7 linked regions of the Homo sapiens genome follow. The protein of the gene in region 3 purifies or fractionates together with the protein of the main gene of each other region. This does not show direct contact. Each region holds a gene or a part of one and is shown on either strand. Other genes may lie near its edges.

Region 1 (4,371 bases), on a different chromosome or scaffold from region 3:
TTGCCCTCCTGGCTCTCTGGCACCCCTGGTGCCTTCAGCACTTCCCAGAAGACTCAGGAGATCTTCCCACAGCAGGAGCACTGCTGATAGAGTTACAGGACAGCACTGTGGCGTATGGCCCCCATTCGAATTGATGAAGATGTTTAGGCCAAGGGGGAAATGGTTGTAGCCCCTTAACACACACTCCGCAGCAGTAACTGGGAGGTATTAGGAACTCTAACTTTTTTTTTTTTTTTTTTTGAGACAGAGTCTTGCTCTGTTACTCAGGTTAGAGTGCAGTGGTGCAATCGTGGCTCACTGCAACTTCCGTCTCCCAGGTTTAAGCGATTCTCCTGCCTCAGCCTCCCAAGTAGCTGGGATTACAGGCACGTGCCACCACACCCAGATAATTTTTGTATTTTTGGTAGAGACGGGGTTTGGCCATGTTGGCCAGGCTGGTTTCGAATTCCTGACCTCAGTGATCTACCCGCCTTGGCTTCCCAAAGTGCTGGGATTACAGGCATGAGTCACCACGCCTGGCCAACTCTAACTTTTTTACGTTCTCTAATCCTCACAGGTTCTCCAGAACAAAATCCTTGATAGGTGTGCTTCCTCCTTTTTTCTTTTTTCTCAAATGATGGGTTAAAGTTCAAATGTTAGGAAAGGCTGGGTGTGGTGATTCAAGTGTGTAATTCAGCACTGTGAGAGGCTGTGGCGGGAGGATTGCTTGAGCCCAGGAGTTTGAGACCAGGCTGAACAACGTAAGGAGACTGCGTCTCTACACAAAATTTAAAAAACTAGCCAGGCATGGTGGCATGTGCCTGTGGTCCCAGGTACTCAGGAGGTCGAGGTGGGAGGATTGCTTGAGCCCAGGAGAGATCAAGGCTACTACAGTGAGCCGTGTTTACACCACTGCATTCCAGCCTCGGCAACAGAGTGAGACCCTGTCTCAAAAAACAGAAACAGAAACAAATGCTTGGAGAGTGTTGTGTTAGTAACTTATTGTCTTAGTCTATTTTGTGTTGCTATAAAGGAATACCTGAGGCTGGATAATTTATAAAGAAAAGAGGTTTATTTGGGTCACAGTTCTGCAGGCTGTACAAGAAGTATGGTGCTGACATCTGCATCTGGTGACCCCTCAGGAAGCTTCCAGTCATAGCAGAAAGCAAAGAGGGAGCAGATGCGGCAAGAAAGGGAGCAAGAGTGAGGGGAGGGAGGTGGCAGTCTGTTTTTAACAATCAGATCTCGAGGAAGCTAATAGAACAAGAACCCACTCATTACCCCAAGAATGGCACCAAGCCATTCATAAGGGATCCACTCTCATGACCCAAACACATCCCACCAGGCCCCACCTCCAACACTGGGGATCACATTTCAGCATGAGATTTGGAGGGGACAAACCTTCAAACTATTTCACTTACCATTCATAGCAAAAGCAAAGCCCAAATGTGTGTTTGCAAAGCCTTCCAGACACAACAAAAGAGAATTAATTCATAATTCCCGATTTAACTTAGTCGGCCCTGAGATTTTTTTCCCTGAATTGTTATACCTAGATTAAACTATTTTTAAACGTTTGAGTGATTCCTCATTAGTTTTGTTAATCAAAGAGGTAAAGCAACTTAATATTGAGTAGTATTGTGAAGGATTATCATATTTTTGAATAAGTGCATTAACGGTCTTCCTACTGAATATTAATGAAGCATAAATACCTGTTCTTATTGTTTATGTGTAACAGAGCAGCTTGGCTTGGCTGGAGCTAAGAGCCAGACACACCACTGTGTGGAGGTGGGTGATGTCTTCCTGTGCTAAAAGGTGAATAAATAAGCTCCTCACCTCTCGCGGAACACTCGGGAACACATCAACAGGTATTTAGCCACATCTCCTGATTTCATCTTTCAATGGCAAAGACCTTGAATCCTGTCCTTAACTGGGGCTCAGACATTAATCAACAGGTCTGATGAGCATATGGTGGGGACACCAGATTTCATTGGAGTCCCCAAGAGAAAAAAAAGTCACAGTGAGCAAAGAAGGGGTCTGACAGAGTGGGACAAATGCAAGCGCAGTGTAAAGCAGAACCGCCATCTGCCCCCAGTTCCATTCCAGATTAGAGTATGGATGCTTCCAAGGAAAGAGAGTGCTGTGTAGTAAAACTGAACATTGTTTCACCAGGGGTCCAAGCCGCCCTGCTGGGAGGCTTCTCTTCAAGAGTTCTGGGTCCCAGAGTGGAAGGCATTTTCCCATCAACTGGAGAGAGACGAAACATCAGAGACCAGGAGGCTGTGGAGAAAGCAGCTGTCCCAGGTGCCTCAACTATCAGAGAAGGGTCAGCGTCACGTGGCTGCCAGCATCTTTGAGAAAATCACTGGCAATCGGACTTCAGAGCTGCGGGCACAGGTGTGGTTAGAACTGAGATACGACCTGCCCACCTGGGTCAGGCCTAAAGACAAGAAGTCCTGAGTTCTTGCCACTGAGTAGGCCAGGGTCATTTGTCCAGAAAACTTTGTGACTGTCTTTGAGTGACCTAGTCTGGGACCCATTCATTGGTGGGTTCTAAGGTTAGAAGCTCATCCAGGATATTTTCAATATTAAGTCAGTGCATAGCTGCACCACTAACAAATTGGTGCCTGTAGAGTCAGAGTGGGTCAATTCTTAGGACAATGGCGCTGGCACTGTTAGAGGACTGGTGCAGGATAATGAGTGTGGATGAGCAGAAGTCACTGATGGTTACGGGGATACCGGCGGACTTTGAGGAGGCTGAGATTCAGGAGGTCCTTCAGGAGACTTTAAAGTCTCTGGGCAGGTATAGACTGCTTGGCAAGATATTCCGGAAGCAGGAGAATGCCAATGCTGTCTTACTAGAGCTTCTGGAAGATACTGATGTCTCGGCCATTCCCAGTGAGGTCCAGGGAAAGGGGGGTGTCTGGAAGGTGATCTTTAAGACCCCTAATCAGGACACTGAGTTTCTTGAAAGATTGAACCTGTTTCTAGAAAAAGAGGGGCAGACGGTCTCGGGTATGTTTCGAGCCCTGGGGCAGGAGGGCGTGTCTCCAGCCACAGTGCCCTGCATCTCACCAGAATTACTGGCCCATTTGTTGGGACAGGCAATGGCACATGCGCCTCAGCCCCTGCTACCCATGAGATACCGGAAACTGCGAGTATTCTCAGGGAGTGCTGTCCCAGCCCCAGAGGAAGAGTCCTTTGAGGTCTGGTTGGAACAGGCCACGGAGATAGTCAAAGAGTGGCCAGTAACAGAGGCAGAAAAGAAAAGGTGGCTGGCGGAAAGCCTGCGGGGCCCTGCCCTGGACCTCATGCACATAGTGCAGGCAGACAACCCGTCCATCAGTGTAGAAGAGTGTTTGGAGGCCTTTAAGCAAGTGTTTGGGAGCCTAGAGAGCCGCAGGACAGCCCAGGTGAGGTATCTGAAGACCTATCAGGAGGAAGGAGAGAAGGTCTCAGCCTATGTGTTACGGCTAGAAACCCTGCTCCGGAGAGCGGTGGAGAAACGCGCCATCCCTCGGCGTATTGCGGACCAGGTCCGCCTGGAGCAGGTCATGGCTGGGGCCACTCTTAACCAGATGCTGTGGTGCCGGCTTAGGGAGCTGAAGGATCAGGGCCCGCCCCCCAGCTTCCTTGAGCTAATGAAGGTAATACGGGAAGAAGAGGAGGAAGAGGCCTCCTTTGAGAATGAGAGTATCGAAGAGCCAGAGGAACGAGATGGCTATGGCCGCTGGAATCATGAGGGAGACGACTGAAAACCACCTGGGGGCAGGACCCACAGCCAGTGGGCTAAGACCTTTAAAAAATTTTTTTCTTTAATGTATGGGACTGAAATCAAACCATGAAAGCCAATTATTGACCTTCCTTCCTTCCTTCCTTCCCTCCCTTCCTCCTTCTCTCCTTCTCTCCTCCTCTCTCCTCTCCTCTCCTCTCTTTCCTTCCTTCCTTCCTTTTTTCTTTTTCTCTTTCTTCTTTATTTCTTGGGTCTCACTCTCATCACCCAGGCTAGAGTGCAGTGGCACAAAAATCTCGGCTCACTGCAGCCTTGACTTCCCAGGCTCAGGCTCAGGTGATCCTCACACCTTAGCCTCCCAAGTACCTGGGACTACAGGCACGCACCACCATGCCTAGCTATTCTTTTGTATTTTTGGTAGAGACAGGGTTTTGCTGTGTTGCTCAGGCTGGTCTGGAACCCCTAGGCTCAAATGATGTGCCCAACTCGGCCTCCCAAAGTGCTGGGATTACAGGCATGAACCGCCATGCCTGGCCCTTGATTTTTCTTTTTAAGAAAAAAATATCTAGGAGTTTCTTAGACCCTATGTAGATTATTAATGAACAAAAGATTAAACTCCAAATATTAAATAGTAAGCCTGAAGGAATCTGAAACACTTGTAC
Region 2 (4,535 bases), on a different chromosome or scaffold from region 3:
CTCATTGAGGAGGGCCTTGTGTAGATTTTGAAGTACACACTAGTTCATCATCTGTGTGGTATGCCCTTTCAAAGGACTGGAAGACAGTCAAAATTAAAATTAGAACCCTACTAACCAGAGTTTATTTTGTTATTATTTCTTTTCTGAAACTTCTTGGGGACTTGTAGCTCAGAGCTGTGTTACAACCCCCATTACCACACCCAGAGATATGTGGCCTGGGAGTTAGTAGAGTCAGGTGCCTTTATGCCATGTTTTGCCATATTCTCTGCATTTCTCAAAAACAAAAACAAAAAAACCCACAACATAGCAAATGCTCCATAAATGTTAAAATTCTTTTTCAAAGGAATGAAGGACAGCACAAATTGCAATTTGTGATGGAGTTTCAGTCTCTCACAAATGTTGCCTAGACATTCGCCTTGTATGAGAACCTGAAGGAACTGAGTTTTTCATTCATATGCTGGGGGAGGCATCACCTCACTGAAAATCAATTCCCTACTATCCTTGTTGATGTCAGGGAAATTATGTCATCTCTCAGAGAAACAGTACAAAAAATTAAGATTTAGTATGTGGAACTGAGATTGTAAAACTACAATCAATTCAGAGTGTTTTGTTTTTGTTCTCTTTATTCCTTACATTGCTTACTGTTAGAATGGAAGTTACAGTTGCTGTTTTCAGATGGCTGTCCTGAATCTATAAGGTAGCCCCCTGAATGACAGATAAGTCACTCTGACCGCCTTTTTTTTTCTCTCCCACTTCTGGACCTCTGCAGGTGTCTGGTTGAGAAGGGAGATGTGGCCTTTGTGAAACACCAGACTGTCCCACAGAACACTGGGGGTAAGTGCACCTGCTCCTCTGTCCCCCTAGATCACTAGATCCTGGTCACTGGTATTCACTTGTATTCAGGGATGCCTTTGTGGAAGTATTATGTACACTGTCAGACTTCAAAGCTCTGATTCTCAGTCTGTCTGCTCAGTGAAGAGAGACATGTTCACCTGAGTGCGCAGAATGATCAGGATTATGGGGCCCCCAATGGCCCTAAATCCTCCCCAACACACACTCCCACAGCTGCAAGCCTTGTGCTCCTTTCCCCTAAATACTTCAGTGCCTATTTCCTAAGAATAAGACAATCTCTTGCATACCCACAGTATGATTACCAAGATCAGGATCTTTTACATTATGTGGATTTAATACTCGTCACGTCCACAGTCCACATTTAACTGTTGTCAGTTATCCCAGTAATGCCTTTTATAGCTATTTACTGTACTTCTGGGTTGTGTCCATTGAGAAGGCCTAGAGGCAATGGCATACCAGCAGGAGTAAGCACCAAGATATTGGCTTGTAAGTACTCTTCTTTACTAAAAGGAACCAGAACTCCTTGGAAAAATAGCTGACTTCAGGGCTGGGGCAGGAAAAATAGATGCTGAGCCTAGAACAACACACTGAAGTGCTCAAACAGTGATGGGACACTCAAAGCATACAAGAACCAATTTGAAGGATCTCCTGTTGCCAAGTCTGGGAATTTTGAGCATTAAAATAAATAATGATAGCAGTAAGGGATAATAGCCCATTGAAAGAAATAAGAATGCATGAGGCAATACTGATTAAACAAATGAAGAAGGGAAAACTAATCAATGTGGAAGGAATGATAGAGTTAGAAAACTATCACTTGGCAACCAATATATTGATAACTGATTCAAGCAAGAATCAATGGGTGTTAAGCCGGGCGCAGTGGCTCACGCCTGTAATCCCAGAACTTTGGGAGGCCGAGGCGGGTGGATCATGAGGTCAGGAGATCGAGACCATCCTGGCCAACAAGGTGAAACCCCGTCTCTACTAAAAATACAAAAAATTAGCCGGGCGCGGTGGTGGGCGCCTGTAGTCCCAGCTACTCGGGAGGCTGAGGCAGGAGAATGGCGTGAACCTGGGAAGCGGAGCTTGCAGTGAGCCGAGATTGCGCCACTGCAGTCCGCAGTCCGGCCTGGGCGACAGAGCGAGACTCCGTCTCAAAAAAAAAAAAAAAAAAAAAAAGAATCAATGGGTGTTAACTTGTGGGTGAACGTTGGACAGCCATAATATTAATAAAAACAAACAAAACAAAGCAAAACAAACATTGGCCAGACTGAGCACTCCACACCTGACCCCTCAGTATCACTAAGTGCTAGCAGAGCCCACTGGAATTCAAGCTGTGAATACTTCCCTGCCTTCTCTCATGTTCATTCCCCAACTCCTCACTTTTCCTGGGCAACTCATCCAGAATGAACCGGCTCAGCACCAGCCCCTCCAGGAAGCCTTCCCAGATGGCATACCCTGTCCTACAAGAAGACTCCTCTGTTCATATTGCCATTATGATTGAATTCACCACACTCTGTAATACACTTTGGCTACAGAAACTCTTTGAGCTCTTTTTCTTCATCTTATATTCCCAGAACCTAGTGTAGCACATAGTACACAGCAGTTGCTAAGAATTTGTTTGCAGAAATATTGGGTTGACTAATTTTCCTTTCTTCCCTCGTATTATTGCTTTTTCCTTTAAGAGAGTGTTACCCTAAGCTTGGCTCTTTGCCACCCTTGATTTCTTTTGGTACTTTTCTGAGTAGAGCTCCCTTCTTTAAGCTTTGACTCTCTTACTCTTTGCAATGACTCAAAAATTCTTCCCTCCTGCATAGAATTAAGATAGGAGGCCTGACATCCAATCTCAATTCCATTCCAGTCTATTTCCCAAGGTGTCACTTTTATGTAGAGAGTACATTGGCATTGCAATTGTATTTTTTTACGTGTGTATATGGATGTCCTCATATATTGTAGTTGTATATATACAATCCATATACAACTCAACTGTCCTCATCTTTCTGTCAACGTTCCCTCCTCTTCTCCCAGCCTCTATCCTTATAGAGAATCCTGCTATACTCCCTGCCCATCAGGCCTAGATTAAGTCTGTCAGTCAATATCTTATTTCTTCAAAACGTGTCTTTTTTCAAACTAAATTTTGAAATAATTGTGTGTATTTAAGGTAGACAACATGATTTTTAAGAGCCAAAGTAATTTTGATGTATTGTAAGTTTGGGAACTACTGGTCTAATACCCCTGACTTAATATCACATTCCTGATAAATATTACTAAATGTAAGTCACATCATGTCTGATTCATCATACTTATATTTTGCACCTTCTTACCTTCTTCTGTTATTAATTTGTTGCTTTTTCAACTTATATTTTAGATTGAGGGTACATATGCAGGTTTGTTACATGGTATACTGCATGATGCTGAGGTTTGCGGTATGATTGAACCTGTCACCCAGGTAGTGAGCATAGCACACAACAGGTAGCTTTTCAACTCTTGCCCCCCTCTCTCCCTCCTCCAAAATCTGTCTTAAGTGCTATGGTATATACAAGAAGGAAGACACAAAACCACGTGGGCTTTTTTTTTTTCTTTTTTTTCTTTTTGAGATGGAGTCTCACTTTGTTGCTAGGCTGGAGTGCAGTGATGTGATCTCAGCTCACTGCAAACTCCGCCTCCCAGATTTAAGTGATTCTCCTGCCTCAGCCTCCCAAGTAGCTGGGACTACAGGCGTGCACCACCACGACCAGCTAATTTTTGTATTTTTAGTAGAGACGGGGTTTCACCATGTTGGCCAGGATGGTCTCCATCTCTTGGCCTCATGATCCGCCCACCTCGGCCTCTCAAAAGTGCTGGGATTACAGGTGTGACCCACCGCGCTCAGCCCACATGGGCTCTTTTATCACAATTTGTGTGTGTGTGTGTGTGTGTGTGTGTGTGTATGTGCATATTATAGGTGTGTGTAGGAAAAAGAATGTTAGAAATGTACCAATTTTGAAGGCGTAGACTATGAAATTACAAATGCTTCAAAATTTTCTTCCCAATACTTACGTGGCATTTTATAAATTTCCACCAATAAACGTGTATTATTTTTATTGAAAAAGCATATTTTTAACATGCCCTTCTAGATGCCCTCCTAGCCAGACTGAATCACCTCCCATTTGATTTTTCTTAATTTTCTACCTTTAGGTTCTGGCTCATTCATTAACATCAATTTCCATTCATAAGTCCTCACAAACCCACTTTTCCTCTTGCCTGAGTGCCTCACATACCCTACTGCCTGAGATGGTTCCAGAGGCGGTCTCCTCTCTCCCTTAGAAACACCAGGCACACACCTGCCCCCAGTCTCGCCTGCACTCTCCTTTCCTCCCGCAGAGAGGCATTCCTTTCTCCTCCTCTCATCCTACACACACTATAAGAGACAACTGAAATCTTGCCTCCTCCAGCCAGCTTCTTAATTCATTTGTTCTCAAAGCCCTGGTTTGAGCTCACACAGCATCTAGAGTGTTTTACAAAATATAAAATATTATTATCCCTGCCCTGAATTTTTTGTTTTGGTATGTGTGTTATTTTCCCCTCCAATAAGATTGTGCCTTGGAGAGGGCTGAGAACATAGTATCATAGATAAATGAATAAAATAACATAAAATAAAATAAAAATACATATACCCTTTGAACTAACTATTCCACTTCTATGTA
Region 3 (3,642 bases):
CTTGAGGAGTTCACATTGCTAAGGTGGAGACAGCACATTTATTTTTTAAAATTCTAAGGTCTTTCCATGATAGTCCCTCATTCTTTTCTCAGCTTGGACCAGGAACCTCCCACCAACTTAGCATTGCTCATCATATTGCCGAGGGACTGCAGAGTGTGGTCCAAGAGCGTGGCCCTGGCTGCTTCCTTTTTCAAGTGGAACATTTTTATCATTATGCTTTTTCTTGTATTTTATAGTATTTACCTAAAATATCATTGCACTATTGATATATATGGAGTCGGTATTGTAAATGACTTAGAAATTCTGCAGATTTGCAAAGAATGTTATTTAAAAAAAAATCTTCTCTTTTCTCAGCAATGGATGTGCAAGCATTTGAAAGGCTTCTGGGACCTTGCATGGAAATTATGAAAAGGAACATCGCTACCTATGAAGAACAGTTAGTTGCCCTGTTTGGAACGAACATGGATATTGTTGAACCCACTGCATGAAGCAAAAGTATGGAGCAAGACCTGTAGTGACAAAATTACACAGTAGTGGTTAGTCCACTGAGAATGTGTTTGTGTAGATGCCAAGCATTTTCTGTGATTTCAGGTTTTTTCCTTTTTTTACATTTACAACGTATCAATAAACAGTAGTGATTTAATAGTCAATAGGCTTTAACATCACTTTCTAAAGAGTAGTTCATAAAAAAATCAACATACTGATAAAATGACTTTGTACTCCACAAAATTATGACTGAAAGGTTTATTAAAATGATTGTAATATATAGAAAGTATCTGTGTTTAAGAAGATAATTAAAGGATGTTATCATAGGCTATATGTGTTTTACTTATTCAGACTGATAATCATATTAGTGACTATCCCCATGTAAGAGGGCACTTGGCAATTAAACATGCTACACAGCATGGCATCACTTTTTTTTATAACTCATTAAACACAGTAAAATTTTAATCATTTTTGTTTTAAAGTTTTCTAGCTTGATAAGTTATGTGCTGGCCTTGGCCTATTGGTGAAATGGTATAAAATATCATATGCAGTTTTAAAACTTTTTATATTTTTGCAATAAAGTACATTTTGACTTTGTTGGCATAATGTCAGTAACATACATATTCCAGTGGTTTTATGGACAGGCAATTTAGTCATTATGATAATAAGGAAAACAGTGTTTTAGATGAGAGATCATTAATGCATTTTTCCCTCATCAAGCATATATCTGCTTTTTTTTATTTTGCAATTCTCTGTATTCTATGTCTTTAAAAATTTGATCTTGACATTTAATGTCACAAAGTTTTGTTTTTTTAAAAAGTGATTTAAACTTAAGATCCGACATTTTTTGTATTCTTTAAGATTTTACACCTAAAAAATCTCTCCTATCCCAAAAATAATGTGGGATCCTTATCAGCATGCCCACAGTTTATTTCTTTGTTCTTCACTAGGCCTGCATAATACAGTCCTATGTAGACATCTGTTCCCTTGGGTTTCCGTTCTTTCTTAGGATGGTTGCCAACCCACAATCTCATTGATCAGCAGCCAATATGGGTTTGTTTGGTTTTTTTAATTCTTAAAAACATCCTCTAGAGGAATAGAAACAAATTTTTATGAGCATAACCCTATATAAAGACAAAATGAATTTCTGACCTTACCATATATACCATTAGGCCTTGCCATTGCTTTAATGTAGACTCATAGTTGAAATTAGTGCAGAAAGAACTCAGATGTACTAGATTTTCATTGTTCATTGATATGCTCAGTATGCTGCCACATAAGATGAATTTAATTATATTCAACCAAAGCAATATACTCTTACATGATTTCTAGGCCCCATGACCCAGTGTCTAGAGACATTAATTCTAACCAGTTGTTTGCTTTTAAATGAGTGATTTCATTTTGGGAAACAGGTTTCAAATGAATATATATACATGGGTAAAATTACTCTGTGCTAGTGTAGTCTTACTAGAGAATGTTTATGGTCCCACTTGTATATGAAAATGTGGTTAGAATGTTAATTGGATAATGTATATATAAGAAGTTAAAGTATGTAAAGTATAACTTCAGCCACATTTTTAGAACACTGTTTAACATTTTTGCAAAACCTTCTTGTAGGAAAAGAGAGCTCTCTACATGAAGATGACTTGTTTTATATTTCAGATTTTATTTTAAAAGCCATGTCTGTTAAACAAGAAAAAACACAAAAGAACTCCAGATTCCTGGTTCATCATTCTGTATTCTTACTCACTTTTTCAAGTTATCTATTTTGTTGCATAAACTAATTGTTAACTATTCATGGAACAGCAAACGCCTGTTTAATAAAGAACTTTGACCAAGGCTATAAATGCCACGTACATTATTTTCAGTATTGTTGGTTATATTTAAATTTTCCTTACAATAAAGCACACTTTTATAATAAAATACATGAATTATTGTTTTTCATACTTTTTTGCTTGTTTCTTTAAAGTTTTCTGACGTGCATAATGCATAATTCATTGAAAAGCATGATAGCAATGTGGCATGTGGAAGCGAACCCCCAGGGCATAACATAGTAAGAAAGTATGGTTCTGTATGGCAATAGGTTTTTAAAATTATTAGCTATTCATCATGTGTGGGAGAAATAATTGTGGTGTGTTGCAGATTTATTTGGCCATTTAGAATAACCAAATCAATCTGGCTAACTAGGAATTTATGTGTAAAATTATCTGATTAAAACAGCTCAAGTTTGACTTGTGGATGTCATTATTTAATTATTAATCAACACTCCTTACTATGTGAGAATTCTCTGTTGACCATTCATTCAAGGACAGAGCCTCTCGTGTATCATGCGTGGCTAAGGAAAGGGGTGAGGACTTTTTCCCCAAGAGTGACGGTGCTTTCCCTTATTTTAAATAAAGGTGTGTGTGTGTGTGTGTGTGTGTGTGTATGTATGTGTGTGTGTATTGTTTTCTACATATCCATATGTACTAGGGCTTAGTGCAGATATTTTAACATACACGTTACCTGTGACACAACTTAGGTGAATGTATATGTGTTACCATTAGGATTAGTATTATAAACTCTGGCTAAATGCCATTTAAAATGCTTTAAAAGGCCGGCACCATGGCTCATGCCTGTAATCCCAGGACTTTGGGAGGCTGAGGCAGGAGGATCACGAGGTCAAGAGATCGAGACCATCCTGGCCAATATAGTGAAACCCCGTCTCTATTAAAAATACAAAAATTAGCTGGGCGTGGTGGCATGTGCCTGTAGTCCCAGCTACTCAGGAGGCTGACGCAGGAGAATCGCTTGAACCTGGGAGGCAGAAGTTGGAGTGAGCCGAGATTGTGCCACTGCACTCCAGCCTGGTGACAGAGCGAGACTCCGTCCATAAAACAAACAAGCTTAAAAATTCTTCAAGTGAAACGGCATGAAGCAAGAGACTTCGGATTTTATTGAAATGTAAAATTTAAAAACGCTGTGTTCTTTCCCTTCCCAAAGCATCTTTAAAGATACTGATAGAATTTTTCCTCTCAAAAAACGTTATAAAGGATGAGATGACCTTTGCCATTCTTAAGGAAAATTAATACTGTGTAGGCCTAGAGAGGTGAGTCATACATCTGGATTAAGGCAGAGCTTTGTTAAATTGCTGGACGGGATTCTTAAAAAAAAAAA
Region 4 (4,535 bases), on a different chromosome or scaffold from region 3:
TTGGGGTGGTGCTAGAAATATAATCACAGGGAATTTGGGGTTTCTCTCTAGCTTCCCTAAGCTTCAAAGTCCAAGTTCTTGTGTCTCGTGGGGCTATAGTACTGGTAGTGAGGTGGCTTACTGGTCCTTTTGTTATCTGTGTGCATGGCATCATTGCAGCCACCATCCTCCGGTCTTGTCTTTGGCTGGCCATTCAAACAGGTAGCTGCTAACACGTACTGAATTTTTTCTGCAAGATTCATTCAGAACTGGCAATTTTTTTTTTCGACAGAGTCTTACTCTGTCACCCAGGCTGGAGTGCAGTGGTGCTCTCTCGGCTCACTGCAGCCTCGACCTCCCAGGCTCAAGCTATCCTCCTGCCTCAGCCCCCCGAGTAGCTGGAACTACAGGCACATGCCACCACGCCCAGCTAATTTTTTATTTTTGGTAGAGGCGGGGTTTCACCATGTTGGCCAGGCTGGTCTTGAACTCCTGACATCAAATATCCACCCACCTCACCTCCAAAAGTGCTGTGATTACAGGTGTGAGCAGTCTCACCTGGCCGGCGTTCTTTATGATTACAAAACTCCATGGTGTGATCTCAGATCTCATTTACCTAGGCACATCCACAGCCATTTGTTCACTGGCATCTTTCTGCCTTTCCAAGGGCTCCACCTGGGGAAAAGAGCACTGGTTCTGTGTCACTTTTAAATCCCACCAACCTAATGTGGGAGTAGGAGCTTCTTTCCTAAAGTACTTGGGCAGCCCTTTAGGGTACAAGATACAGGACCCTAACCCACTGATCTACTAATGTCTAGTACCCCCCTTTTCTTTCCCTTCTATTTCCCCCATTCCTCTTTTTGGGGGAAAAAGATCCCCCCAAAGCTCAGGGGATCTTTTTCTAGATAGTGGTGGTAATAGGGGTGGTGGTAGTGAGATCTCACTCCTGTTCATGGCCCATTTTCCAAGATATTTTGTTAATAACTCAATCTTTCTTCTCTGAAGAGCCTAGACTTGAAAAATTCAAAATCTATAAACAGTGGCTTTTCTCTCTTTGTTTTCTGTTAGTCATTCTTTACCTAAGTAGAATGACCTCTGACTCAATAAAGTGCTGACAGGTGGAGGGAGGTAGTGTATTTAAAAAAAAAGTGAGAGTATAGGGGCAGCATTAATAAATGCTGTGAAAACACTATATTGTATATTTAAGGGGCAACAAGCACAAGTTTATTTTTGTCTCTTCTCCTCAGTGTCTGACATTTGGACATCCCGGTGTACAATTCTCAAAAAAGAGAGAGGGTTCAACTTGTTATTTTTTTAAGGAGACGGTAGTTATTCTTGGTTTCTTTCCATATAGGGCCATTCTAGTGCATTAGAGATTTGTCATATCAGAAGCATTATGTTCATATACTTTTACTTTCCCCCCTTCTGTATGCCCCACAAAAAAACATGCACATGGAAGAAAATTCGACATCCAACTTTGAATCATTCATTTCCATTTTAAGAAGAGTGGTCTTTGTTTTCCCCACCCCTGGGAAGAGTGGTCTTTTATTTCCTTTTTATAATCTTGGTTGTTAGAGCCTTTAGCAGGCTTCTTTGTAGAGTTAAGAATTTACCATAATTAACATAAACAGTGAGCCATGTTTTGAACTGAAGCAGCATTATGATTTTCAGAGGTCCACGTAAAACAAATACAATTGAGACTTTGTTTGGGGAGGAAACATTATCAGGGACACTTTCACACTCTACTAACAAGAAGGCATCCACAACCTTTCTGGGGTAAAATACTTTGTCTTTTAGCAACTTAGAGTTAACTAAAGGGATTTGAAGTAAATAGAGCTTGGAGGTAATTAACACAATATGCTTTGAATCTGATAAACTTAGGTACGTTTTGGATGATGAGTATGTCAGTTCTTTTGGAGCCAAGTTCCCAATCAAGTGGTCCCCTCCTGAAGTTTTTCTTTTCAATAAGTACAGCAGTAAATCTGATGTCTGGTCATTTGGTGAGTGCATCTGATGTTCACTTGCTGGAGCTTGATTTAATAAAATGGGCAATGTGTTATTTTTAACTTTGATTTCCTAATTGATATAGCATTTTTTAAAAAGTCTTCTTGTAATTGTGCTTCCTTCTGTGTGTTCTAACCACATCCCGACTGTCTTTGGCAACTGGTGTCACATACCTTCTTACATAAGTCTGCCTTTTGGATCTTTTCCTTCCTCCATGGGCACTCACTATAAAACCATAACAAAGAGTCTACTGATCTAGAAAACAAACTCAGATAAGTTTTCCACTCCGCAGAGGCTTGAAGGAAAAATGATCTTATGACATTGTTTAGAGTGTAATTAATAAACTTAATTGTCTAAACTGTGAAGCAGGTTGACTATTTTCCAGTTGTTCAGTTGTTAACCTGAACTTAAAACCTGAGTTTAAAAAATGGTGGCATCTCATTTACTTCCTTAACTTTAAAGTTTGTGGAATTTAGACATAGGCTTCCTTGGGATCTATAAATTGATATTCATATTGGATAATGTTCTTCATTGAGAAAGAGACACCATAGACCCACGTCCAATGAAGTTTCGGGGTTGATTTTCAAAAAATGGTAATAAATATGCAAAAATCTATCTATCCTCTTTCACCCCAAACTTCCTGGAGGCTTGTGGGTTCTGGGTCCTCAGAAGGGTGTCAGTTTTATTGTCTACAATAAGGTTAAAACTGGGCACAGTGGCTCAGGCCTACAATTCCAGCACTTTGGGAGGCTGAAGTGGGAGGATTGTTTGAGACCAGGAGTTCAAGACTAGCCTGGGCAACCTAGCAAGACTCTGTCTTTACAAAAAAAAAAAAAAAATTAGCCAGGTGTGGTGGCATATACCTGTAGTCCCAGTTCCTCGGGAGGCTGAGGCAGGAGGATTGCTTGAGCCCAGGAGTTTGAGGTTATAGTAAGCTAGGATCGTGCCACTGTACTCCAGCCTGGATGACAGAGCAAGACCCTGCCTCAAAAAAATTAAAACATAAATTTAAAAACATACAATAAAGTTAAGCTTGTGTCATTAATCTCATTAGCTCTCCATGGACATATGATAGTCTCAGCAGGTGACACTTGAAGCTCTACTGAAGAGCAATTAGGTTGTGAGACCACATCTTAGAGACCAATGAAGAGCAATATAACGACCTCATCGAAGGTTGCCAAACAATTAGAACTCCCTGAATTTTACCTACTTGTCTCCCTCACTGAACAGTGAGCTCCTTAGGCACATGGATTGATCTCACACTTATAAAATCTCCAGGCCCCAGCAGAGGCCTCGCCTCTCATCAATGTCTAGTAAATATTTGTAGAATAAGTGAATAATTAAATGAACTCAAATTAGGAGTTCTTGCAGGAGTTTCACTAATCAATCAATCAATGATTATTGGACATCTACTTATGTACAGAGCCCCTGCTAGATATTCTGGGGCTCTGCCCATCAGTCTAATCTTTTAGCAGAAAGAAGGGGACACATGCCATTTACTGGCTGAAACTCTTGGCTAAGTAGGCAGCAGAGGCTCACATAATCCTGTCAGTTTCTATGGAATGGCAGAAAGGTTCATTGATTTCAGGATGCAGGAACGTGACTGCTGCTTAGAAATGAAAATGCTAGGCCGGGCGTGATGGCTTACGTTTGTAATTCCAGCACTTTGGGAGGCTGAGGTGGTCGAATCACCTGAGGTCAGAGCTCGAGACCAGCCTGGCCAACATGGTGAAACCCCGCCTCTACTAAAAATAGAAAAATTAGTTGGGCGTGGTGGTGGGCACCTATAATCCCAGCAACTCAGGAGGCTGAAGCAGAAGAATTGCTTGAACCCGGGAGACAGAGGTTGCAGTGAGCTGAGATCATGCCACTGCACTCCAGCCCGGTAGACAGAGGTTGCAGTGAGCTGAGATCATGCCACTGCACTCCAGCCCGGGCGACAGAGCGAGACCCTGTCTCAAAAAAAAAAAAAAAGAAAAGAAAATGCTACTGGCATTTTCTCCTGATAGGAGAGGCAATCAAGACCCATGGACAAGGAAAGGCATTGTTTTCACTTAGATTATTTTCAGGTTACAGGCCTCTTTGAAAACTAAAGTGAACATGATTTGCTTCCTTGACAGAACCGCTGTTATTCAGGATGGTTATAGCCCAAAGCCTGGAGCACAAAAATAATGCCTTGTAGTTTGAAATTGTTCTTTCAGTTCCCAAGCAATCATTTCTCTCTAACCCCTTGTTTTCCTGCATTTTTGTTTGCAGGAGTTTTAATGTGGGAAGTTTTTACAGAAGGAAAAATGCCTTTTGAAAATAAGTCAAATTTGCAAGTCGTGGAAGCTATTTCTGAAGGCTTCAGGCTATATCGCCCTCACCTGGCACCAATGTCCATATATGAAGTCATGTACAGCTGCTGGCATGAGGTAAGCATATGTTACTTTCCTATGAAGGTTGGCAGTCCCAGCATCTGAGAGCAGACCTGATTATCACAAACATTACTTCAGAACTCTGTCATGGCAGGAAAAGGCATCTGTGTCTTGGTCATGATCCTGAGAGTCTGA
Region 5 (4,965 bases), on a different chromosome or scaffold from region 3:
CCTTTTATGTGTTTTAAAGAGGTACATGAGTAGCTGGTGGCAATCAGCCTAAGTAGGATTCTGAGTCTGGATAATTCTTTGAAGCAAGTCAATTAGGGCTTGAGGCTTTTCAGTGTAAGATGGAGTGTTATTTTTCCAGTTGAGTAGTTCAGCAGAGGTAAAAGGGTGATACACAAAAGCATGCCTTTCTACCGTATGTCTGACCTCATCTGTCCTAGTATATCGCTGCTCTCTCAGGGCATTTGAATTCCCGTCTTGGGCCGTTAAGCGGGCTGCCAGGGAAGTGGATTTTCCCGCAGTTTCACTTTTGTTCTTGTCTACTCTGGGTGGTCTAGGGGCTGTGGGCTCAGGAGAAGGGGGCCTCCCCACTGGATAAGGGGTTGAGGGCACTGTTGGTGCCATCTCCTGCCTTGAGTCCTCGAGCTCTGGGTCAAACAGAACTTTAGGTGCTGGCTTCTCTTGGCCGGTGGAGCGAGAACTTTCCTGAAATAAATGTCCCTTTGCTACTACTACTGCTGCTGCCTGTCCTTTTACCACTGTAGAGGATCTAAAACTAGCTGTAACTAGGAATCTCTATATGGAAATTGATATGGGTGCAGGCACACCATGAGCGATCAGGCCAAGCTTCCGCTCAGGTGGAGTGGGGCAAGTTGAAAAGACTTGTCTTACTAAGTTTCAGATGTCTGGACTCCAAGTGCCAGTTCCTTCCTGGTGTTCAGCCACTGTGTTAATCCTCCGCGGGGATCACTGCTCTGGCGAGGCGTTCAACCGGGGCCATTTCCTACCTGGGAGCGCTCTTTGGATCCCATCCCTCAGGCTGGCCAGAGTCCCTGGCAGCCTGAGGGATGCCCCGGCCTTACTCCACAAGGCATGCCTAATCTGCCTAAGGAGCTGCCTCGGCCGTCCATCAGTTATCTTGCTTCCAGGTCAGGGAACCAAGAAATGTAGCAGGACAAGCGGCAGACAAAACTCTCAGACACCGAGTTGTAGAAGGAAGGGTGTTATTCACCTGGGAGCATCGGATAGCTACTGTCTCAAAATCCGAGCTCCCCAAGTGCACAATTTCTGTCCCTTTTAAGGGCACACAGCACTAAAGATGTCACATGAAAGGGTCGTGATTGATTTGAACAAGCCAGGGATATGCGACAAGGACTACATGCACCCGTGGTCAGGGAGAAACAGAATATGGAAGGGAGTTTCACAATGTTCTTCTATACAATGTCTGGAATCTATGAATAACATCGGCTTCTAAATCATAAGTTGATTTGTAACTACTGGGTTTAGGCCAACCAGGCCCAGGCCTGGTTTTGTGCCTTTGATTTTGCTTCCTTGTTGTTTTTACTGAATAGAAAACAATATAAAACAAGAGGACAGGGTCTTTCTCTCTTCTCAATATCAGCACTGGATTGTAGAACTTGTTGCTGATTTTGGCCTGGCATTCAAGTTAACTCTTCCCCTTGGTATCTGTACATACCTTTGATGTCAGTGTTTAGTACACGTGGCTTGGTCACTTCATGGCTAAAAACGTGCTTGTGGAAGACAAGTCTGGCTTGGTGAGTCTGTGTGGTCAGCAGTCTCTGATCCGTGCAGGGTATTAATGTGTCAGGGCTGAGTGTTCTGAGATTTATCTAGAGGCTGGGAAGGGCTCCTGAACCAGTTGTTTCCGTCTTGTCGGTCTGTCAGGGTTGGAAAGTCCAAGCCATAGGACCCAGTTTCCTTTCTTAGCTTACGTTATCTACCAGAGCACCGTGGGCTGTTACTTGCCTTGAGTTGGAAGCGGTTCGCATTTATACCGGTAAATGTATTCATCCTTTTAATTTATGTAAAGTTTTTTAGTATGCAATTCTCGATCTTTTAAGAGTTGACAACAAATTTTGGTTTTCTGCTGTTATGTGAGAACATTAGGCCACAGCAACATGTCATTGTGTAAGGAAAAATAAAAGTGCTACCATATGCAAAAAAAAAAAAAAAAAGAAAAGAAAAGAAACATTAATGTCTAAGAGGTCATTGAGATGATTTCCATGAGAGACTTTTTGATGTTCTTCACCAGTTAGGATTATTATTGATAATCCTTTTCAGATTATGAATAAACAGTTTGCCCTCAAGTATTTATTCATGCTACTATTTACATTGTAAAATGTGCTTCTTACAGGAATATAAATAGTTTCTGGAAAGGACACTGACAACTTCAAAGCAAAATGAAGCTCTTTTGGTTGCTTTTCACCATTGGGTTCTGCTGGGCTCAGTATTCCTCAAATACACAACAAGGACGAACATCTATTGTTCATCTGTTTGAATGGCGATGGGTTGATATTGCTCTTGAATGTGAGCGATATTTAGCTCCCAAGGGATTTGGAGGGGTTCAGGTGGGTATGATTCATAGTATCAATTGCAGAATTCACTGTGCTTGTAGTAAACACTATTCTGATCTTCTACGTGAAGCTTGGGCAACATTTTACTTCACAGGTAAGTATTCTAAGTAAAAGAATTTTCTGAGGAAAAAACAATGTAGTATTCTTTGCAACTGTATATTTTGTTTCTGATATAATCTTTCTTCAACAAGAGCCCTCCGATGTGCTGTTAATATTTTCAAGAGATAGCTGCCTATACCAAGATTCAAGAATCTTTTGTATTATTGATTAGATTCTAGAACATTCAATGATATACAGTAAGACAGAATTTGGTACTTATGAAGACTGTTTAATTTGTAGGTCTCTCCACCAAATGAAAATGTTGCCATTCACAACCCTTTCAGACCTTGGTGGGAAAGATACCAACCAGTTAGCTATAAATTATGCACAAGATCTGGAAATGAAGATGAATTTAGAAACATGGTGACTAGATGCAACAATGTTGGGGTAAGTGAATTCTAGTTTCCTTTAAAAATAACAGATAGGAAAATGATTTCTGTCTCTTCTTTCTTGCTCCTTTTGAGCAGAAAGTTTTCCATATCAGTTTTAATTTTACTTCATACTTTAAAACTCAAAAGTAACTGTCACCTTATGTTCAATTTTTGAAAATATTTGTATATGTGCTCTCTACTAAAGAGATAAGTTAAAGTTTATAGCAGAGTTTACTTCTGAAGCAAAACATCAAATTTTAACCGCTATAACTATCCATATTTCCTGGAAGGATTTTCTGGTGAGGAATTTTAATTCCAGTTACAATATTTGCTCTCATTTTTAGATGACTTGTGTCTCCATTCCTAATTCTTGGGTTTTTTTTGTGGTGAATAGGTAGCTTATCTATTTAATGAGGAGCAGAATTTGAGATGAATAGCTACCTTATTTGTCTTCCAAGCTTAGTAGAGAGTACAGGCTTTCTCCTGGTGACCCACTGAAATTTCCCAAATAGTAACCTTTTCAGTCTCATCTGAGTTGTGTCTCCCCAAAATGGGCTTTTTGCCTTTCCTCCTATTTATGGTAGTTTCCGGTTCTCTCAGTTTATCATTCCTATATATATTTGGCCAAGTGTCTGGAATGAATGTAGGTGTTTAGTTCACATTACTTTCCTTTCACAGTTGATTTTTGATCTTGTAGGAAAATAGTTATAAGGTATGAAATATTTTGGAATTTTATTAGCACACTATAAATTTAATCAATAATTCTTTAAATTTCTGCCTCTCTGTAAGTCACACTGAATTAGAAACTTTGTTTTCTAGGTTCGTATTTATGTGGATGCTGTAATTAATCATATGTGTGGTAATGCTGTGAGTGCAGGAACAAGCAGTACCTGTGGAAGTTACTTCAACCCTGGAAGTAGGGACTTTCCAGCAGTCCCATATTCTGGATGGGATTTTAATGATGGTAAATGTAAAACTGGAAGTGGAGATATCGAGAACTATAATGATGCTACTCAGGTAATTTTTTTACGAGAGTGATCTGAATAAGGAGTGATATATGCCTTTTGTTGTAGACATGTAGCTAATTGAACTTCGTTGTAAATATGAATTTAGATCTCTTAGGGACAGAGGTTAACAAGTTTGACTACTTTAAGAAACTCAAATCCATATTTGAAAACCTTTAAATATTGATTTAAGATTTTTAATCAATACACATTTGTCCACTTTTAAAAAGCTCCCAACCAATTGAAAAACTCATCGACTTTATTTCCTAAGTTCTCTATTTTCTATTAGAAAATATTTCCAAGATACATCTATAGTAGAATGTGAGCATCCCCAGTGTCCAATGCAAGGAAGTCACCATAGAATATCTCTTGAGGAATCATGGAATAAATGAATAATCAAATGGATTCTCAGGCGAAAAGTGAGGTTTTATTAATCAATCATAACATTCTTACCTCAACAGGTCAGAGATTGTCGTCTGTCTGGTCTTCTCGATCTTGCACTGGGGAAGGATTATGTGCGTTCTAAGATTGCCGAATATATGAACCATCTCATTGACATTGGTGTTGCAGGGTTCAGAATTGATGCTTCCAAGCACATGTGGCCTGGAGACATAAAGGCAATTTTGGACAAACTGCATAATCTAAACAGTAACTGGTTCCCGGAAGGTAGTAAACCTTTCATTTACCAGGAGGTACGTCAATACATATAGGCATATAAAATATCATCCTATTCATTAGAAAATTCACGGCAGATTCAATTAAAAATGCAATTTCTGTAGGATAAAGACTGAGTCATTTCCTTAAAACAGTGTTCTTTAACCTCCTCTTCTTCACATACAGCATATCTAATTCTTTATCACAACAGGTTTTATGGAGGTACACAGAATGTAGGATACTGATAATAGTTATGTCTTTATTTTCTTTGGAAAATGAAATGAGTTAATATTTATCAAAAAAAGTCAGTCAGATAGTAAATATCGTATTCCTGTGAGCTGTTATTATTATCATTGATGTACAAGACTAAAAATTAGGTAAGTATTCTCACAGGACAACAGGTAACTTTGACATTATGTTTCTTTCAATATTGTAGTGTATACTTTATCAAAAAAAGAATATAAG
Region 6 (3,501 bases), on a different chromosome or scaffold from region 3:
GTCAGGAATACTGTTGTAAGAAAGGGATTGTTCAGTCTACCTAGAACCTATGGGAAAGCTGCAAGACCATTTACATATCAGTACAAAACTCCTTTATTTTATTAAAATATGAGAATTAACTTCAATTTATTAAGATTACGTATTGGTCCTTTAAATTATTAAAGGTTTACATTTGATAGGATTAATGGATTTGGTAGTGAAATATTTTTATATATATAAATTTTTGGTTTTTTATTTTGAGCACTATTGGGAAACATAAGCAAAATTGAAATGCATGGTCTTTCAGTGCAACCATACAATTTTTATTCACTTTGTAATAGAATGGACAAAAAAACTAAGGTTTATATATTAAACTAATAAAAAGGTACAGGGTAAATTATATACATATATGTATGAATGTATATATACTTAGATTAAGAAAAAAAAATGACTCACATTCCTGTAATATAAAGGTCCATTGCTAGTTGAAAAGTGACCTCTTTTCTCTGTACATAGTGAAGCCCGTATGTATGGAGTTTTAATCTGTACAGAAAGAAATGTATTATTCATTGGTCTTTCTGCTGCTGGAAAGATAATAGAATAGCTGATTCTTACAACAACTGTATGATCAGGGATGAGTTAGAGTATTTCTTTTGTCTTTGCTCAAAGCCATACATATATAAATATATATAAAGATTATTAATAAATTCAACAAAAAATAAACTACAATCATGAATATTTTATTTTATCAATATATGCTAATCAAATGTTTTATTTTATTAATGAGTACAGCTTTGCCTCTATTTTTACATCATAAAATTTCCAAGAGCTTATACTTGATAATCACATAAAATCAATTATATTCTATAATTCTGGAATGAGAGGACTTTAAATAGAACATGGATTTTTCAACCACTTCTTTGTTTACCTTTTTCGTATAGTAAAATATGAGCTTATTTTCTTTTTTGCTCTGTGCCTTTTTAGAATGTGGTTGTTCTCCAACTTCAAAACACAACCATTTTGTGTAATTATTGGATATACAGATGAGAAATAATTTTCCTGTAATAATGGTAAATAATTGTCCTGTAATATATTTATACAAACCTATTTTGTTATAATAGTTCTATGACATACCTATTTTGTTATAATAGTTTTATAACATACCTATTTTGTTATAATAGGGCCTTGGGCTCTATTATAACAAAACAGGTTTATATAAATACATTCATATTTATAGCCTTAAACAAAATAGGTTTGTATAGTAGGCCCAAGGCCCTATTATAACAAAATAGGTTTGTATAAATATATTCATATTTATAGCCTTGGGCCCTGCAAAGTTATTTGGAGAGTGATAGAACCTCCCCACACAAGTGGGTTTTAAATGATACCTAAAAGCCTGAGATAGAGTTTATCATAATGAGAATAAGTAGTGAAGCATTCCTGAAAACAAGGAGGATAAATAGTAGCAATGGCAATATATTCTATTCACCAAAAAAGTAGCTTGTCTCCAGGTCTGGATGACCTCTTCATAAGTGAACAATTCCCTGATGAATGCTGTTCCACTTTAAAGAGATGGTTATTTTGCAATTTATAAACTTAACTGAGCATACTATTTTCAGGACACTACAAAGTACATAGTCAAGTTATTACCGTCATTCCTATAGGACAGAGAATGATTTAAACAATATGACATGTTTAAAATTTTAGATGATTTATTTCAAATCCTGAATTATGTCTACTTCAAATTATGAGCAATCTCTATTATCTTTCAGGACTATTTAAAAAATCTCCATACCTCCTCTTTCAGCTTAGGTTTTTATATTTGTTAATTTTACTATGTTACTTTGCTTCTATGGCCCTCACTTGCACTGTTTATAATGTTAACCTGTTTGAATGAGATATCTCTCCATTATATCTTTATCTTTTTAGAACATGTGCCATAAAACCCATGTGGTTATTTTGTTCATATGCACTACAACTAGCAAACTTTTATTTTATGTTCACCTACTTTAAAAAGTACTCATACTGTACCATGGGAAAGAAACATGGGCCTTATAGAATGGAATGCTGAGCTATTTTGAGTCCTGAAAACAATGGCCAAAAATTTAAGGAACTGTGGTTGCTGCATGCACCAAATTGTAGCACATACAAATAAATAAAATACAGTTCTATAACTGTATTCAATATGGTTATTTTCAAGGAAAAATAGGATAGAAATTTTCTTTGAAAGATTTGCTATTGTACTTAGGGAAGTACACCTGCTATTACCCCTCAAAAGCAATGACTTTCTTAAGCAATTTCAATTTTTTTCCTTTTTAACAACCCTGCACTTGCACAACCCTGCATCTCTTGTCTCACCCTAATGCTGACCCTGCTTCCAATTCAGGCTTTGACAGGGACAAATGGAGATTTTAAGGTTTTTTAATGAGAGAAGCCTTGCTGACACTCCCCGCATCCCACCTTGAAAATTATTTAAAGATGATCTTAAAAGAACCTACAGATAATGCTCTGAATTTGTTTACAAGGTCCTTGATGTGGAGAGAATGAGTAATACATTAAATGCTGGGGAAATAATTATCATTTAGTGAAAAATTAAGCATGCTTTTCTAAAATGTGGATGTTTAACAGAGCACAGCTGATTGGGAACACTGGCAGTTCAATGCAGCTGGAGTGTCTCACAGGGTGAAGAGGAACCCAGATCAAGTGGGAAATAGGGATTTCAAAAACCTTCTGAAAGGCTTTTAACATCAGGGCAAAGGTTTTACAGTGTTGTACTTTATATTCTTAATTTAAGCTTATCAACGGGGAGGATTCACATTGAAATGTCTGTTTTGCTAATGTAACAAGGAATAAAATAATTTATGACACAGCAAAAACTGGGGGCTATTTACAACCCCACCCTGCCTTGTGAGGATGCTGGGTCCTAAGGAAGGTCCTAGGTTTGCTAAATAGAGTAATGGGAATAGGAAACTGAAAGTTTACTTGCTTTGCGTAAGATAATATATTGCGGCAGGGAAGGGGTACAAGAAGATAAGAGCTAGAACCTGTGAGAAGGGAAAGAAGTGATAAAATAATTTTGGCTAAAATAAAGCAAGTTCTCAGGCCAGGCGTGGTGGCTCATGCCTGTAATCCTAGCACTTTGGGAGGCCAAAGTGGGAGGAATGCTTGAGGCCAGGAATTGGAGACCAACCAGGGCAGCATGTCAAGACCTGGTCTCTACAAGGAAAAAAAATTTTTTTAATTGACCAGTATATACTTACATACCTGCAGTGTTTAGAAAACCCGACTATAGGTGGTGTATTCCTGTAGTCCTAGTTACTCAGAAAGTTAAGGCAGGAGGATCGCTTGAACTTAGGAGGTCAAGGCTGCAGTGAGCCCTGTTCGTTCCACTGCACTCCAGCTTGGGGGACAGAGCAAAACCCTTTCTCAAGAAAAACCCAAACAAACAAAAAAGTGAAGCCAGTTCTTTAATTTCTATTGGAGATATCACACACGCTCCAAAGAGTGGCAAAGGTGAACATT
Region 7 (4,535 bases), on a different chromosome or scaffold from region 3:
TTTATTTCTCATTATAACTGTATGAGATATACATTATTACCATGCCCATTTTACAGGTAAGGACACTGAGGCATAAAAAGGTTAAATTACTTGTTCATACTCATTCAGTAGTGATTGCTCAGTAGTCTTTCAATAACCATCTTATCCTTCTTCCTTACAGGCAAACTATGTTGCAATCAATCTAGACTTCTTGCCATTTCCTTAGCACCCCTTTGTCATCTTCATGCCATTTTTCTGGTTACTTCTTTTCCTGGAATTCAATTTCCAATCTTTTTGCCCACCAAAATCCCACTCTTCCTCTAAGGTCCAGGTTAAGAGACCCATTTGGTGTTGACCCTTCCCAGATTGTACCAGCTGGAAATCACCTATTCCTTCTCTGAGTTCTCAAGACTATACTGTGTACACCTTCAAACTTCTTACTTATCAGACACTACTTTTTTTATTCTAGTGACTTGAACATTTGGTACCTTCCCTACCAAGTCATGACTTCCTTGAATGTGGGAATATTTTCACAGGTCAGCATGTTCTTCACAGAGCCAAGCAAGTTATGTTGTCAATATGCATGTGTTGAATCAAAGGAATAACCTAAACATATTCAAGCTCATTTTCTCATGGACTCTTCAGAAAATAGCTGGTCATTTTCAGTAACAAGAGCCTGGAATTCTTGTTAAGGAGTTCCAGGGCTAAGAATCCAGAAACAGTCTCTCATAGGCAGAAGCCTGGTACAGAGATGAAGCATCCCTGGAGTCTAGTTTCTGCTCTACCACTAAGTAGCAATGGGATCTGTGACAAGGCACATAAAATCTCTAAGCTTCAGTTCTCCATGTGCCCAACCAATAAGAGAGTTGTGCAATATAGCTGCAAATATTCATAATGGCTCCGAGATGCTATCATTCTATGATTTATATTTACTATTGCTGAGATCTCTGCTAAAAGTGACAAGTTCAACTGAGGTACTATCTTTGTAAAGTTTTACGAGGCAACTGAGGAAGACTTAGAAGACAACAACCACTGAAGGGATTAGAAATCAGGACTATTGGGGATTTGAGACAGATTAGTATAATATAAAATTGTTTCACTTCAAAACATCATACCCAACTCATAAGGCCCTTCGACTCTTTCTTTCCATGATCAATTAAAAGAAAATATCTACTTCATATATTGCTAATGGCAATGTAAAGTAGCACAGCTGCTTTGGAAAATAGTCTTGCAGTTCCTCAAAATGTGAAACACAGACTAAACATACAACCCAGCATTTCCATCCCAGGTTAAATGAAGACATATGTTCACACAAAAGTTAGTACGTGGATGTTCAAAGCAGCAATATCTATAATAGCCAAAAATGGAAATAACTTAAATGTTCATCAACTAGTAAACCAAAGGATAGATGATAAGGAATATTGTTTGGCAATAAAAAAGAATGATGTACTGATGCATATGCTATGACACGGATGACCCTTAAAAACATTACGCTAAAGAAAAGAAGCTAGTCACAAAATGACATCATATATTGTATGATTGCATTTATATATAAAATGTCCAGAAAAGACAAATCCACAGAGGCAGAAGTAGAGTGGTGATTTCTTGTGGTTGGTGGAGGGATGGTGGAACAAGCTACATAGTTTCTTTCTTGGGTAATTAAGAACATTTTAAAGTTAGATTGTAGTGATGGTTGCACAATTCTGAGAACAAGTTGAATACAAGTTGTGAGAACAAGTGAAAAATGGTTCCTCATTGGGGGTCATGAAAAAGCCTATGAATGGTGGAAGCCATTTACTGTGATGGGAATGGCTAGAAAGAGAAGATTCTGTCTTAGGCTTGAGTTTTGTACATTCTCATTGGACATGAAGCAAAGACGTCAAGTAGTCAGGTGAGTATGTCAAGCACTGATGCAAGCACTGGAGATCAACAGTATATACAACAGCCAAGTTCTGTGCTGATGGATCTTATATCCCTCCATGCAATGATTAGGGCAATTTTAGAATTATCAATCCAAACATGTATTTAAACCTCATGTGATTAGATGAAAGAGCCTAAGGATTGGCTGCAAATGGAGGAGAAAACACTAAGGATTGAGGCCTCCGTTACTCCAACACTGTGTTGAGTCAAGTATTCTGGGTAAGCATGCTACCCTAGATGCTATATGCTTCTATCATTGTATAACACACTACTAAAACAGTAGAGTTGATAGGTATTTATTTTTAAAAAGAGTTTATAATCATTCCTTCATTCTTTATATAGTAATTCTTTTACAAGAAGAAGAAAAGCCTACAGCTGGCTCAGGAAGTCCTTTCAGATACTTTCCCTACCGCCCGCCTCCCTCCCCCAACATTGGGTGTTCCAAGCCCCTCACAAAGACCTTAAACCCTCAAGTAGTGGCTCAGCTAATAAAGGCACACATGGAAAAAAAAAGAAGAGAAGAAGGAGAAAAGCAATATCTATGCCAATGTATTGATTTAGGTTGATAGATCTATACCTGGAGAACCTTTAAGAAATACAGCAATACTTTTCTTTAGAAATAAATCTGTAAAATGGCACTCTATAAATCTCCACTGTTTGCTTGAACTCAGATATGACGACTTTTACTTGTGTAAACTGGAAAATGATAGGATCCGTGCAAAACATTTTGCATAAAGCTATATATAGTATTGTGGGGTAAAAGTGAGAAAGTCAAAATCCCAGTTGGATATACCTAAAGGTAAAATATTATTCACATTTTTCCTTTAAATGCAGATTTTCTAAATTATCATTCAAGAAACACCCTCACCTATCTTCTTCACTCTTCAAGTGTTTCTCTAATTCCTTTCATTAGATCCAAAAAAGAAAAAAAGAGGAGGAGAATAAGAAAAGGAAAGAGACGATGAATGAGAAGAAGAAAGAGAAGGAGAGGAGAAGGAGGAAAAAAAGGAGAAAAAGGAGAAATAGTAAATAAGATGATAATCTTTTTTTCTAATACTCTTCGAAAACCAAATTGCACATGGGAAGTAAATGTACCTCCTGTAGACTGCCGGAACTATTTCAGCAGATATTACTAGGCACACACACATCCCACATACATCAGCTCCCTTCATTGCTATGTATGTATCCCAACTTATACAATGTGCTTACATATCTATATTTTTATCGTCAAACATGCTATTTTATACAAGCTGCTCAGGGATGAGATGGCCAGAACTGCTCTTTTTATATAATCATTACTTTTTTTTTTTACAATATTTTTGCTTAATGTTCTAAGAAATCCTTTTTTTTTATGGTCCACATGTTGCGTAGCATCAAAGGTTATTCAAACAAAGCCAATTCAAACATGGTATTACTGCATAGCTTCAAAAACACATTTCAGGTTACTTATATATAATTTAAATTCTGAAATAGACTACATATGGCTATGATAATAAGCCCATTACTGAAAAAGAGCACTTTAGCAACATGTATAAACCTCTATGAGATTCTACATCTGCACTATGCACATACATTATCTTTACTATATTTATCTCCCCTAATATCATGTGTGCCACTTTCATTTAAGAATAGTTAAAGGGTAAAGATGAGAAAAACATTCTCATTTTAAAACACCTTTTCACAAGTATTATAAAATTATCAGATTGATGTAATATATGGCATATAGATGTAATTTAAAAGTGTTGCCATAGTTCATATTAATTTCCCATAAATGACTGCAAAACCCTATTCTTATTCAAAAATAAAGAAAAGCTGGAAAACAAAGGCTAACCTTAACATACATTCTCCTATATGATCATACAGAAAAGTCTAGATGTGATTAATCTGCATCAATAAGAAAACCATTATTTACATCCCAAATAGAAAAGTTTATCTACATTTCTCAACTAACTTAATATTTGCTCTCTATGGATTGCTACAGGGACACAATACTGAAAAATTATAAATAATATTAGCAGATAGCTTCTATGAGGTGGCAAAACGCTACCATTTTTCATATACTATAAAAATGCACATATAAATAACCCACCAAGCAAATATCAATGCAAATATATGTATCATTTGTCACTGAATAAAATTAATATCTGTGTCTAGCACAAGGATGGTCAGTATATCTTTGAAATGGTACAGGCTTCTGTACATTTGAAATTCATGTGGAGTATAAGCACACACCTCTAAGAAGAATAAGTAAATAGAAATCATAGAATCCTGGAAGAGTAACAAAGCTTAGAGAACCTACAAACCAACCTCTTCACTATATATGTGAACACTGAGTCTCAAAGTGCTGAAACAGCCTAGAGGGCAGTGTTCTCCACATCCCAAATTTTCAACCATCCCCGTGGAGAAACTGTCATTCTGAAGTATCCAAAGGCAATCCAATGTCAAACGTATGATTTACATATTAATTTAGTAAGAGTGTCCAGGGTTTCCTTTGCTTTTGACACAGCAGATGCTAAATACAAAACTAGTTTCACACACACAAAAATTTAATATTGCCTTTTCAGTGTCAACTCCTCAATTTTGGCATTTTTCACTACATTACTATGAGTTCTGCTGCATAATTGTGGCCCAGACAC

The links.
Region 1: the proteins of PRKAR2B (region 3) and PNMA2 purify together in Homo sapiens (co-immunoprecipitation; one large-scale study listed by IntAct). This does not show direct contact.
Region 2: the proteins of PRKAR2B (region 3) and TF purify together in Homo sapiens (affinity purification with mass spectrometry, with the first as the bait; one large-scale study listed by BioGRID). This does not show direct contact.
Region 4: the proteins of PRKAR2B (region 3) and TXK fractionate together in Homo sapiens (co-fractionation; one large-scale study listed by BioGRID). This does not show direct contact.
Region 5: the proteins of PRKAR2B (region 3) and AMY1C purify together in Homo sapiens (affinity purification with mass spectrometry, with the first as the bait; 3 studies listed by BioGRID). This does not show direct contact.
Region 6: the proteins of PRKAR2B (region 3) and HCN1 purify together in Homo sapiens (co-immunoprecipitation; one large-scale study listed by IntAct). This does not show direct contact.
Region 7: the proteins of PRKAR2B (region 3) and ROBO2 fractionate together in Homo sapiens (co-fractionation; one large-scale study listed by BioGRID). This does not show direct contact.

Annotation. Positions count from the first base shown.
Region 1 is NC_000008.11:26,507,021-26,511,391, reverse strand, and holds part of PNMA2 (paraneoplastic antigen Ma2), read left to right. Parts: intron 1-1,714; 5' UTR 1,715-1,844; intron 1,845-2,148; 5' UTR 2,149-2,636; coding exon 2,637-3,731; 3' UTR 3,732-4,371.
Region 2 is NC_000003.12:133,769,739-133,774,273, forward strand, and holds part of TF (serotransferrin isoform 1 precursor), read left to right. Parts: intron 1-769; coding exon 770-834; intron 835-4,535. UniProt on the Homo sapiens protein: Transferrins are iron binding transport proteins which can bind two Fe(3+) ions in association with the binding of an anion, usually bicarbonate.
Region 3 is NC_000007.14:107,159,095-107,162,736, forward strand, and holds the end of PRKAR2B (cAMP-dependent protein kinase type II-beta regulatory subunit), read left to right. Parts: intron 1-354; coding exon 355-488; 3' UTR 489-2,717; downstream 2,718-3,642. UniProt on the Homo sapiens protein: Regulatory subunit of the cAMP-dependent protein kinases involved in cAMP signaling in cells. Type II regulatory chains mediate membrane association by binding to anchoring proteins, including the MAP2 kinase.
Region 4 is NC_000004.12:48,071,379-48,075,913, reverse strand, and holds part of TXK (tyrosine-protein kinase TXK), read left to right. Parts: intron 1-1,860; coding exon 1,861-1,979; intron 1,980-4,239; coding exon 4,240-4,397; intron 4,398-4,535. UniProt on the Homo sapiens protein: Non-receptor tyrosine kinase that plays a redundant role with ITK in regulation of the adaptive immune response. Regulates the development, function and differentiation of conventional T-cells and nonconventional NKT-cells.
Region 5 is NC_000001.11:103,748,272-103,753,236, forward strand, and holds the start of AMY1C (alpha-amylase 1C precursor), read left to right. Parts: upstream 1-1,626; 5' UTR 1,627-1,795; intron 1,796-2,152; 5' UTR 2,153-2,198; coding exon 2,199-2,366; intron 2,367-2,711; coding exon 2,712-2,858; intron 2,859-3,661; coding exon 3,662-3,859; intron 3,860-4,307; coding exon 4,308-4,538; intron 4,539-4,965. UniProt on the Homo sapiens protein: Calcium-binding enzyme that initiates starch digestion in the oral cavity.
Region 6 is NC_000005.10:45,256,454-45,259,954, reverse strand, and holds part of HCN1 (potassium/sodium hyperpolarization-activated cyclic nucleotide-gated channel 1), read left to right. Parts: 3' UTR 1-3,501. UniProt on the Homo sapiens protein: Hyperpolarization-activated ion channel that are permeable to sodium and potassium ions. Displays lower selectivity for K(+) over Na(+) ions.
Region 7 is NC_000003.12:77,042,841-77,047,375, reverse strand, and holds part of ROBO2 (roundabout homolog 2 isoform 23 precursor), read right to left. Parts: intron 1-4,535. UniProt on the Homo sapiens protein: Receptor for SLIT2, and probably SLIT1, which are thought to act as molecular guidance cue in cellular migration, including axonal navigation at the ventral midline of the neural tube and projection of axons to different regions during neuronal development.